3 linked regions of the Homo sapiens genome follow. The protein of the gene in region 3 interacts with the protein of the main gene of each other region in a pairwise test. Each region holds a gene or a part of one and is shown on either strand. Other genes may lie near its edges. The genes, in order: OTUD7B, LPIN1 and DBH.

The links.
Region 1: the proteins of DBH (region 3) and OTUD7B interact in binary tests that used the Homo sapiens proteins (3 or more experiments, as listed by UniProt).
Region 2: the proteins of DBH (region 3) and LPIN1 interact in binary tests that used the Homo sapiens proteins (3 or more experiments, as listed by UniProt).

Annotation. Positions count from the first base shown.
Region 1 is NC_000001.11:149,941,084-149,944,830, forward strand, and holds part of OTUD7B (OTU domain-containing protein 7B), read right to left. Parts: coding exon 2,774-3,747; 3' UTR 1-2,773. UniProt on the Homo sapiens protein: Negative regulator of the non-canonical NF-kappa-B pathway that acts by mediating deubiquitination of TRAF3, an inhibitor of the NF-kappa-B pathway, thereby acting as a negative regulator of B-cell responses.
Region 2 is NC_000002.12:11,777,503-11,781,249, forward strand, and holds part of LPIN1 (phosphatidate phosphatase LPIN1), read left to right. Parts: intron 1-2,016; coding exon 2,017-2,143; intron 2,144-3,747. UniProt on the Homo sapiens protein: Acts as a magnesium-dependent phosphatidate phosphatase enzyme which catalyzes the conversion of phosphatidic acid to diacylglycerol during triglyceride, phosphatidylcholine and phosphatidylethanolamine biosynthesis and therefore controls the metabolism of fatty acids at different levels.
Region 3 is NC_000009.12:133,639,305-133,643,051, forward strand, and holds part of DBH (dopamine beta-hydroxylase precursor), read left to right. Parts: intron 1-541; coding exon 542-688; intron 689-2,902; coding exon 2,903-3,160; intron 3,161-3,747. UniProt on the Homo sapiens protein: Catalyzes the hydroxylation of dopamine to noradrenaline (also known as norepinephrine), and is thus vital for regulation of these neurotransmitters.

The sequences.
Region 1 (3,747 bases), on a different chromosome or scaffold from region 3:
GACCACCCCTCAAAATTTCCATCTTTTTTTATTTGAAAATAAAGCAAACGGAATTGGGATTGGCTAACTTATAAATAAAAACAAACATGATACAAGGTTTTTTGTTCATTTGTCCTTAGTTTTTAAAAACAAAAGTGTTAACTAGAATCTAACAACAGATCAAATCCAAACACAGCAGTCCAGTGGAGAATCAAAACTTTTCCGGCTTTATTCTCTGGGAAAACCCCTGGTCTGTTTTCATTCCTATTGGTCCAGGCCACCATTCTATGATATGAAGGCCTAAATTAGGAAAGCTAGGTGAGCTGTGCAAATTCAGGGTGTCTGAGCCACCTGTTGTTTGGTGTGTGATGGGGGTGGAGGCGCACACAGTGGTGTTCTCGCTAGTGTTCAAATCACAGAAACAGGGACGTAACTAGGGTGAGGTGAGCAAAGCACTCACCTTGGGCACAAAATTTAAGGAGTGCCAAAAAACCCAGTAACCAAGATAAATACTATTTTAATGCAACATTTTTAAAAAATCACAATTAATGTAAAAAGTCTATGATGGACAATGTATCAAAAATTTAAATAAGAAGGATTCATCCCCATACTTATTCAATTCAGCCTCACTTCCCTCCTCCTAATCTCAGTCCTGTCAGATCCTGTAAGATTTCGCTATTTTATCCAACATAAATTTTTTGCATTAATTTTTTTAAATACTGCATTTTTTATAGTATCTTGATTAATGAGTTTTATAGTAACCCTTAAATTTTGCAACTTAGGGGAGTGCTCATCTCATACCAGGTTCCAGACCTGCCTAGACATATACACATCCCTTCCTTTGGAATCTCACTGCTTCCTTAACACAAATCTATTTTCAAAGAAAACCCTAAGAATTAATAGCCATAGGAAATTATTAAATCAGATTTGGAAAATAGGTGACTTCTGAGTTTGTTGAGGAGAAAATAACCTTTATAAACCGTGAGCATTTCCAACAAGGACAATCTTGACTGGCTACCGAGGAGGAAAACACACACACATATGCACGCACGCACATGCATGCACGCTCAAGTGCTTTAGATCAAATGTGGGGATTACGTTCCAAGGGATGGGTTATGAGTACATACCTCAAAAGAGAAATCCAAACACAGAAAAACAGCCCCAGTTAATACTCTGGACACATAAGTACACTTATTCCCCTTCTTCACATGCACCCGGGAGTGTATACAATTGCATAGTTGACTTTTTTTCCCGGAAAAAAATATAAAGAAAAAGGAAAATTGGCCCAGGATAGGTCTTCCGGTTTAAAGCTCTTAGAAATGGCTCTGGCCAGAGCATAGGCTGTTCAGACTTGTGCTTTGTGCAAAATGCGAAGGAGCTCCCCCTACTGTGTCCGCATCCCCACTCCCAGCCCCTAGAGAACAGGGAAGGGTCAGGGAAAGGGAGAAACCTAAAGACAGATCAGCTCATTGGGAGTCATCTGTGCTCTGTGGTTATAGTTCACTAAAATATATTTCTCTAACTACCTTTTTATAAATTGCCCCTATATGTTTCAACATCAGTCCTAATATCAAAAATATCTCTTCTTAGAAAGTATTTTTAATTATTTTAATAAACTAACCACAGATTAAGGTCAGCTATGGCTTAACAAAAGAAGCCGGGATGTTAAGTTCATTCTCCAAAAGTAGAGCAAAGGGAGAAAGAACCACTTAAGTAGGAGGAAAAAAAATCATTTTTTAAATGTTTTTGCTTGCTGGGGTCTTTTTATTTCTTTTCCTTAAAAAAAAAAGTCAATAAAATAAGTTGCTTTCTACAGAAACGCAGCAGCCACAGAGGCCTGTAATGCTCTACTTAGGTTTTTGGTTTTGTTTGAAACAGCCTCTGGCTAAAATGTCTGTCCTCCCACCCCTCCCAAGGTGCACTCAAACCCCAACGTATGGTTATTGCTGTGGTTAAAAAATAGATCAGCTCTGCCCCAATTCACCTGGAGAAAATGCAACACACATGACGGCTGTTCTCACCACACTCTTCCCTTTAAACAAATACAATTAAAGACTTAGATGAGGAAAAGACAGGGGGTAATCAGCAATCTCTTCTCAAACTGTAACAGATGACATATGACTGCTTGGAAGGAAATAAACCTTAAGAGGAAAAGGATTTCCCTCTTAAGTTCCTCCCTTTCCCATCTAAACAAACGGATTTAAACTACCCCCACCTCCTAACAGGCACCCATGAGGACACATTACTGCCTTGTCTTTCCAGATCCTTCAAGGGGAAGAATTTATCCAACCTTAATTTCTAGCTTAATTCAAATCAATAGCAAATGTGTCCAATTTCCCACTTCCCCTCCACACTTCTCACTCCACCATGTGCTTTTTCCCAACCTAAAGAACTTTGGTTTTATTGACTGAGAACCTCCTTTGCCCATTCCTCCCCAAGACTTCTGCCCACCTCCCACCCCCACACACCAAACCTTCCCCTGCTACTTTCTCTTAGGTCCCTGGATGGGACCCAGGAGGTTATAAGACAGAATCGCCATCTTTTCCCCTTGTACCTCAAACCTCATCAAGTCAAGCTCTGCAGAGGAATAGTACAGCCCCTGAGGTGCCATCCAGCCCCGACCTGCTCTTGCCAGCCTGGCAGCACTCCTGTGTGCACACACTTAAAAGTTTCCAGCCAGGCTCCCACAAACATTACTGCATTTTCCCCCTCAACATGGGGACTGTGTTCTTGATGAGCCAATTAGTTGAGCTTAACTTTGTTTAGCCTCCTTGCCCTTCAGTGTTCCACCCGTTCAGAACCTGTGCACCAGGAGCTCCCCATCCGGTTCCCGCTCCCTCCTCCTCAGTTCTTCCCTGTAACAACAGGAACAGAAGTTGTTTGTCTCAGGGTGTCCATAGAAGCTGCAGTTCGGTTGTTTGCATTTGGTCTGAGTTGGGGGAAGGCCCCGGAGACCTCCAGCCCATCCATCTGGCTCAGGGGGCTCTCTGTAGCCATTGCTATAGGAATCAGCCACTCGGTAGGGGGGTGGTAACAAGGCACCCCTGTGAAGTCCATCCTTAGAGTGGCTGCCTGGCTCCAGAGAAGGGATGCTGTCCTGGTGGGGGTAGGGTCGCCCAGGAGGGCACTGTCTGGGGAAGGTGGCATATGGTGGTAGGCCCCCGACACATGGACCCCCTGCCAACTGCCTCCGGGGTTCCTGGCAGTGGACTCCGCCCCCAGACGGCCGAGGGATAGTAAAGTCCCCAGGGTAGCCAGTGGAAAATGCCATTGCCCTGGACTCTGCTGGGGGACCGGTCGGCTGCTCTTCCCTAGCATCTGGCTCTGGCTTTTTGGCTGGAGGAGGGCCACCCCCTATTCCTCCATTCATGATCTTCCTCTCTGCCTCCTTCTGCTTCTGTTCTGCCAGGAATCTCTCCTCAGCATCAGAAAGGTAGCGCTGGATCATTTCCTCCTGATACTGGTGACGGTGACCCATCTTCAGGGTTCCAACAAAAATAAACTTCCCCTCCCCTTGCATGGCAGTCCTCAGAATGCTCAGGCTCTGCATCACCTCCTGGCTATACTTGCTCCCTCCGTTACCAACAGACTCAGCTGGGGGCTTCTCAGACACAGGCCCATCCCCAGCTGCCTCCTCCTTGCCACCCTTCCAGCTCTTCAGTGAGTTTTTCTTCTTCTTCTCCAGTGTCTCAGTGCCGCTGCTTCCTCCCAACCCTGTCCCCACCCCTCCAGGCTTTGAACCCTTGCTGTGCATCAGGCCCCCCATGT
Region 2 (3,747 bases), on a different chromosome or scaffold from region 3:
TCGTTCTTCTAGAGCAGAGGTTGGTAAAGCACGGCCCATGGGTCAAATCTGGTCCACCATCTGCCTCTGTCAGACTTTCCCGGGCATAGGCAGTTGGTTTACATACTGGCTGTGGCTGCTTTCACACCACCACAGCAGCGAGTGGTTGCGACAGACGTCGTAAAACCCGTAAAGCCCGAGATATCTGCCACTGGGCTCTTTACAGAAAATGTTTGCCGACCCCTGTTCGGAGCAAGCTTTGTCTAAAGGACTTTATTTCATTTAGTGACAGTGAGATAATTTATTGCTGCAAAGAACTTATAGCCAAATATGTTCTATTTTGTCTGGTGAAACAGAATGGCAAGAGCTTTTTAGATACTTTGAGGTTTGGGAACAGCACCGTTGAGGGTGAGAAGTTGGTTTTGATGGACTTATTCCATGATGATGCTGGAGAAAGAGTGGATTGCGGTCACACTTGTAGGTACTGAGGCCCCTCGCTGGAGGCCACAGCCTGCGCTTTTCCCATTGCAGTGATACCGAACACGTGACTGTAGACGCTTCAGTGCCACCAAAGCGTTGTCTCTTTGGAGAAGTCCAGTTGTGGAACTGGAAGAGCAAGGAGGTTGAAAGGCCAGGAGCCTTTCCCACATGGACGTGGGGGGGCCCACGTGCCTTCTTATAGGACTGCTCCCTAAAGGGCAGAAATGTGTGTCTGTTGGGAGCAGGGTGTCCCATTGCAGAAGCTCTCCTAATGTGATGTCAGGAGCCTCCTCTCCCCAGGCAGGCGAAAGAGAGCGTGCAGGCTGCCCCGTGGCAGCACGTCATTAGAAGGGCTGGGAGTCATGGGCACCAAGGGAGCAGGGACCACCCTCTGCCCCTTGGTGTGAGATGAGAGAGATGGCACTTGGTCTGGCTGCTCTATGCAGCTTGATCAAAGAGATTCAGGATCAGTTTAGCCCACAAGGTCCCTGTTTGTTGGATACAAGTTATGTATCATCATGAACTCACCTTGTATTGACAGGAAAGTTATATTCAATTGGAGTTGAACTCTAGGTAAATGAGACCAGAAGCATCAGTTTCCGAAGAATAGATAAGGTCTGGGAAAGAAGACGGCAAGGGAAACTGAAAGCTTTATTTCCTGCTTTGTCTGAAAAACCCTGCCGCCTTCCTCTAGAGGAAATGATGTGGGAAAATAAGCAATAATTAACCATGTTATTATGCGGCAATAAATAATTACAAGAATTGCTGCTGTAAATAATATTTCTCTAAGTTGTTTAGAATATGGTGAGGATCTTGTGGATAAGTTAATGACTTTTGGATGGTTACTTTGGCTGGGCAGAAGTAAGACCTTGTTTGGGTCTTCAGAGTAAAAATTCAGGAAACATGGAGGTGGTTACTGAGCGAGCCTTAACCAGTTGGTGAGTCCCTTGTGAAGTATTCCTGGAAGACATAAGATCTTAGAAAATTTCAACTTGTAGGCTCCTGCCCAACGTTATCGAGTTTATTTGTGGCATCCAGCATCTTTGGTAAAATTGGCACATCATATAATTTCCCTGTTTCCCAGGCCAGTGCAGATGATAAATATTTAAAATATGGACTCTAATGAGTGCCTGCCCGAGCCAACCAAGACCCTTTTGCAGCCCTCTGACAGCAGAGGAACTTGATTTGGAAACAGATTGCAGGAGATGCGAGTGCAGAGTGGGGTGGGGAAGGGTGGTCTTTTTGAGGTAAGAACAGACTATTTTTCCCTTTCTCTTTCCATCTCTTTCTTTTGTATTCTGGGCCACTTCTTTTTCTCCTCTCCCCCGCGGTGCACCAGGCGGCAGGGTGGGGCGGGCGACCCACGTGGAGCGCCTTCCATGGGAGGCGCTTCCCTGCCCCCTGGTGGCCGGAGGAGGGATTTGTCATGAGGCTCCGCTCAGAGCGAACGACAGCTGGGGGTGCATTTTCTGGGCTATTTGAGCCATGGAGCTGGGCCCAAAACATTTACAAAAGTTTCTTTTCCCACCTTAATTTTCGCTTTGTGTTTTCCTTAAGTCCTTCCGGTTCCCGACCTTCAACACCTAAAAGTGATTCAGAATTGGTCAGCAAGTCCACGGAAAGGACAGGGCAGAAGAACCCAGAAATGCTTTGGCTGTGGGGAGAGCTGCCGCAGGCTGCTAAGGTGAGAGTCTCTTCAATTCTGCCACGGACCGAAGATTTCTAACTCAGCTTAAATTACATGGAATTAGTATCATAGCATAGCCAAGAAACACAGCTACCAGGAGCCAGAGGTAAACCAAAATATATTAAGGGTTAGCCTTGAATGTTGGAATTACTTTCTTCCACGTTACCAACATTATAGAGAGGTCTCATTGCTTTTGTAGATTTTAAACCTATGGGATTCCTCTTAGGATTTACTTTTTTTTTTTTTTCTTGAGACAGAGTCTCACTCTGTCACCCGGGCTGGAGGGCAATGGCTCTATCTTGGCTCACTGCAACCTCTGCCTCCCAGGTTCAAGCGATTCTCCTGCTTCAGCCTCCCGAGTAGCTGGGATTACAGGCGCATGCCACCACGCCCCACTAATTTTTGTATTTTTAGTAGAGACGGGGTTTCACCGTGTTGGCCAGGCTGGTCTTGAACTGCTGACCTCAAGTGACCCGCCTGCCTCTGCCTCCCAAAGTGCTGGGATTATAAGCGTGAGCTGCCGTGCCCAGCCAGGATCTACATTTTCTATCACAGCTAAATGCAAATTAAATTAAAGAAATACAACTTACACACAATCTTGCTGTCTTGAAACTGTAAACAAAAATAGCTTCCAGCTCTTGAGTCTGCTAGGTCATTGATGAGTGGAGCAAAGCCACAGGGAGAGAGTTGTGGACTCTTGGCCCATTGAAAAAGAAGCTGAGTTGTAAGAGCTGGAATCCACATGTTCTTGTGTCCCTCACACAGAGAGACATCTGGGAGAGCCCTGGGAGAGGGAAAGGCTAATAGAACAGAAATGAAAGATTTCAGCCTAATAGATAAACAAAGTCAGAAAACCTTAAGGTTTTGATTCATCAAGTAGTAAGTATTTCTGGGCCCTCATTGTTGGTGGGACCCTGAATTTGACCCTATGGAGATCTCCAAAATAAATAGAGAAGCAGCTGAGGGTAGCGGAGAGAATGAGGGCCTGGGAGGCAGCAGGTTATTCTGGGTTTGAGTCCTCACTGCACCGCTTGCTAAAAAGGTGACCTTGGGCAAATGAGTAGACTTCCCTGAACCTCAGTGTCTTCATCTGTAAAACTGTGAGAAAATGACAGAATTGTTGTGAGGTTAGAAGGGCTAATGTAGGTATGTGAAGTATCTGGCACCTGTAGGCCCTCTGAATATTTGCATTCTTTCTCCTTGGCTGTGGTACATGCACGCTGAGCCCCAGTTTCCCTATCTTGGATATGCAGTGGGTTTACATGTAGGTACATAACTGGTTCAGCAAATATGTTTCTAAAAACATGAAATGAACACAATCTTTTCTTTCAAGAAATTTTATTTGGTATGCTAATGTATTATAAGCATCTTGAATTATGTTATTATATCACAAGCTTTAAAAAATATTGTAAGGTCCTTAGAAGATGCTATAGCCTCTTGCATCCCCAATAAATGTTTGTAATATGAATGAATGAGTGAGTGAGTGAGTGAATGACTATTGAAAACATCCCTTATAAAGAGTCAAGATGGGCAGCTTTTTGGAGAGTAGTCTGTTGAGGCCAAAGTTGTGGATCCATTTCCTCTCTAGGTTATATTTAGAT
Region 3 (3,747 bases):
GTGCAGGGTGGGCACCTGCTATCAATCACCATCTTAGATGTGGCACCCTGGTTTCTCTCTCCTTTCCTGTTCATGTCCCACCCTGTTCCCAACTCTCCCCTTTCTGAGGCTCCGCAACTCTCCTGCCTGCATGAATGTGGGCAGCATTGGTCTGAGGCATTGTTCCCAGTCTTGAGGAGGCCTTGGGAGCCTCAGGCATCTTCTTAAGAAGCTCAGTGTCCCGCCCGCCAGGCCCGGGAATGCCCATGGCTAACAGAACCTGTGACCTGCTGGCAAGTGACAGCCCTGGTTCCTGGCTGCAGAGGAGGAACCAACTCCACTGTCGGGGCTCATCTCCACTGTCTCCAGGCAGAAATGGAGATAGAAGGTGTGAGTGAAGCCACAGCCCCAGGCAGAACCCTCAGATCCACAGGGACTGAGGCCCAGCATCCCCAGATCAGCTGGCAATGAATGCGGAGCTCTGCCGGGGAATGCCCTCTTCCCCTGTGGATTGGCCCGGCTTGGCTCCTTCATGCCTGGAGCCCAGTGCTTGTCTCTGCAGGACGCCTGGAGTGACCAGAAGGGGCAGATCCACCTGGATCCCCAGCAGGACTACCAGCTGCTGCAGGTGCAGAGGACCCCAGAAGGCCTGACCCTGCTTTTCAAGAGGCCCTTTGGCACCTGCGACCCCAAGGATTACCTCATTGAAGTAAGGGGTGGCCGCGAGTACCCAGGAGGGCGTGGGCTGCGTGTATCATGCTGCCATCCTGTGCCAATGTCATAGTACCTTTCCTGTCCCTGATAAGTCTGGGGCCTGGGCCTGGCCAGCTATGACAGAGAGAAAGCCAAGGAGGATGGCCAGAGGCAGTGGTGGGGCCAAAGCACTTAGGATGGTCCAGCTCTGCTATTGCCCCTGAGCCCTCAAAGACGCAGCTCTTTGCCAACACGTAGCTGACATGGTTTCTAGATGCGGGGCTTGTGCTGAAGCCTCTCCCATTGGACTAGACCTTGCTTCTGGATGTCTCTCTCCTCCTGGTCCTGTTAACCATCAGGTGGGATTCTGGAGCCCAGGCGACCTGGCTTTCCATCCCGGCCCTGTTGCCAGCTCGCTGTGAGGCTCGGGACAACTGCCCCCCTCCTCTGGACCTCACTTTGCCCATCTGTAAAATGGAGATGGGAACTAGATGATCTGTATGGCCTGACCAACTCTGGGAGTTCATGGGAGCCATAAAACATTGTAAAAGCCATAGGCTTCTTATGCTGCTCTAAGAGCCCCCCAACCTCTTAGGGAAAGCAACCCACCTTGCCCTTGAAGACAAAACTCTTTTAACTCTAGCACACCTGACAGCTTTTGTCTTGTGTAAGTAATCCTTTGGTGTGGCAGTGGCCTGGGCTGGCCGTTAGTGCCAGGTCTTAATCATGGGTGTAGCTGAGTGACCACACGGGAGGCCAGTGCCATCGAAAGATTGATTGCATTTCCGGAGAGAAGGGGCACCTGTGCCGTGCAGGGCCACCTGCAGAGCCCTGGGTTTGGTCAGGAGGCAGATGCAGGAGCTAGGGGAGAGCCCAGGCCTGAGGCTTTCTTGGGGTTTCCATGGGAAAGGCCAGGCAGGGCAGGGAAGTTGCTTCATTTGGACAATTCTGGTGGGCTCTGGGTGGCCGGGGTGGTCTCTAGTTGCCTGGTTCCTGGCCCTAGGGTGATTTAGGGCTGAGGCAATATTGGCCTGGTGTGTGACAGTCAGGTGGAGGAGGTGGCTAAGGATATGGGCTTGGGACGGGTTGGAGGGTTGGGAATATGATTCTCACACAAGCGTGAATGTTGGAGGGAAGGGCAGGTGTAAACAACTCTGGCCATCTGTTTGAGCCTGCAATCCATTAATAGATGCCAAATAGACAAATACGGAATCTAAGAAAACAGAACAGCTGGCTGTTTGCCAGATGAGGAAACTAAGGCCCGGAGACGGGGAGTGGATGTACCCAGGGGTTCGGGGTGTGCTGGGGCAGACCTGGTGCCAGAAGAGGTGTTCTTCCAGGAGGTTGTTGAGCCCTTACCCTGCTTCCCAGTGGACGAGGCAAGGGTGAGCAGAGAACCCTCTGGAAGCACCTCACAGGGGGAGGCCAATGCCTGTGTGTGCTCAGCCCAGTGGCCCCAGGCCAGGTATAGGGGCCTTTGCCTGGAGTTCTGGGCGTCCCCTGCACAGGGCGGCCCATCGGCTTTCCGCAAACTCAAAGAGCAAATTAGCCACCCACACGGGTCTGCACTGTGGAGTGCCCAGAAAGCTATGAAAGGCACTTTCCACACCCGATCCCCGTTTCCATTCATGACAGCATGTGAGGAAGCCAGCCCCACAGCTTGCCTCCTGAGTCTGCCTGTGGCCTCCAGCACCGCGTAGATCCATGGAGCTTTCTGTGGCTGCTTGGTCCCCTCCTGCCAAGCTGGTGGTGACTACATAATATAGCGTGGCTCCGCAGCTCAGCGTGACCATCAGCAAGCCCCAGGGTGTTTCCTTCCCTTCATAGAGGGCACTGAATCCTCAGGCTGGGCTGCTGAACTGACCAATGATCCCCCACACCCAGTCCCCAGTGACCTTGGGGTTGGTGGAGGGAACAAATGTTCCGGCCACACTGGCTCACGGCGGGCCCAGTAGTCACTGGTTGAATGGATGTTAAGTGAATGTAGGTGGAATGTGTTTAGAAGAGAAAAGTATTTGATGGCCGGTGCAAATAGGGGATCCTGGGGGTCGTCAGCCCGGGATTTGGCCCCAGCCAGGGCCATGCAAGCCTCAAGGGTCCCTTATTCACAGAGATGAGAGTGAGGTGTGTCACCTGGTAGGTGTGGGTGGGCAGGGATGTGGCATCCTCTCAGGAGCCCAACTCTGGGGGCTCTGAGAGGGCGACCAGCTGAACCCTGTCTCGGCTGCAGGACGGCACTGTCCACTTGGTCTACGGGATCCTGGAGGAGCCGTTCCGGTCACTGGAGGCCATCAACGGCTCGGGCCTGCAGATGGGGCTGCAGAGGGTGCAGCTCCTGAAGCCCAATATCCCCGAACCGGAGTTGCCCTCAGACGCGTGCACCATGGAGGTCCAAGCTCCCAATATCCAGATCCCCAGCCAGGAGACCACGTACTGGTGCTACATTAAGGAGCTTCCAAAGGGCTTCTCTCGGCACCACATTATCAAGGTACGTGCGGGTCCAGGGCCGAGGTCCTCGCCCAGCCCTGCCTTCCTCCCGGGCCTGGGTTGTCCCTGACCCTGGAGAGCTGTCCACAGTCCTGGTTGGACCAGGTGTCCTCTTATCACTGGAACCTCAGGCACCTGCCTGAGCAGGGGAGCAGCAAGTGGTCTTGGCTTCCCCATCACTCTGCTCACTCCCCTACCCTCAAAGGGCCTTGGAGCTCCCACTTCCCTGCCTGGACCAAAGTGACCAACATCTTGACTTCTGCATCTTTCCTTGGGACTGGAACTGCTGTCTGTCTGCCAGGCCACCTCCCCCTTCATGAAAAAGCAGCTCGAGTCAGAACTCACTTGCTCTCGAACACCCGTCCGGGGAAGACAGAATAGCAAAGGCGATAGCTGTCGAGTGTCCACTATGCCACTAGTCCCGGGGGAGGGGCGAGGTGATCCCTCCTTCATCATAAGAGCCCCTAGTTTCCAGCAGAGGAAGTGTGGCCCAGGGAGGTTGAGTGTCCAGGGTCACATAGCAAGAAGGGGCATGTCCTTGAAGGTGCACTCAGAGAGGTTATGTGAGTGTCCAGAGTCACACAGCAG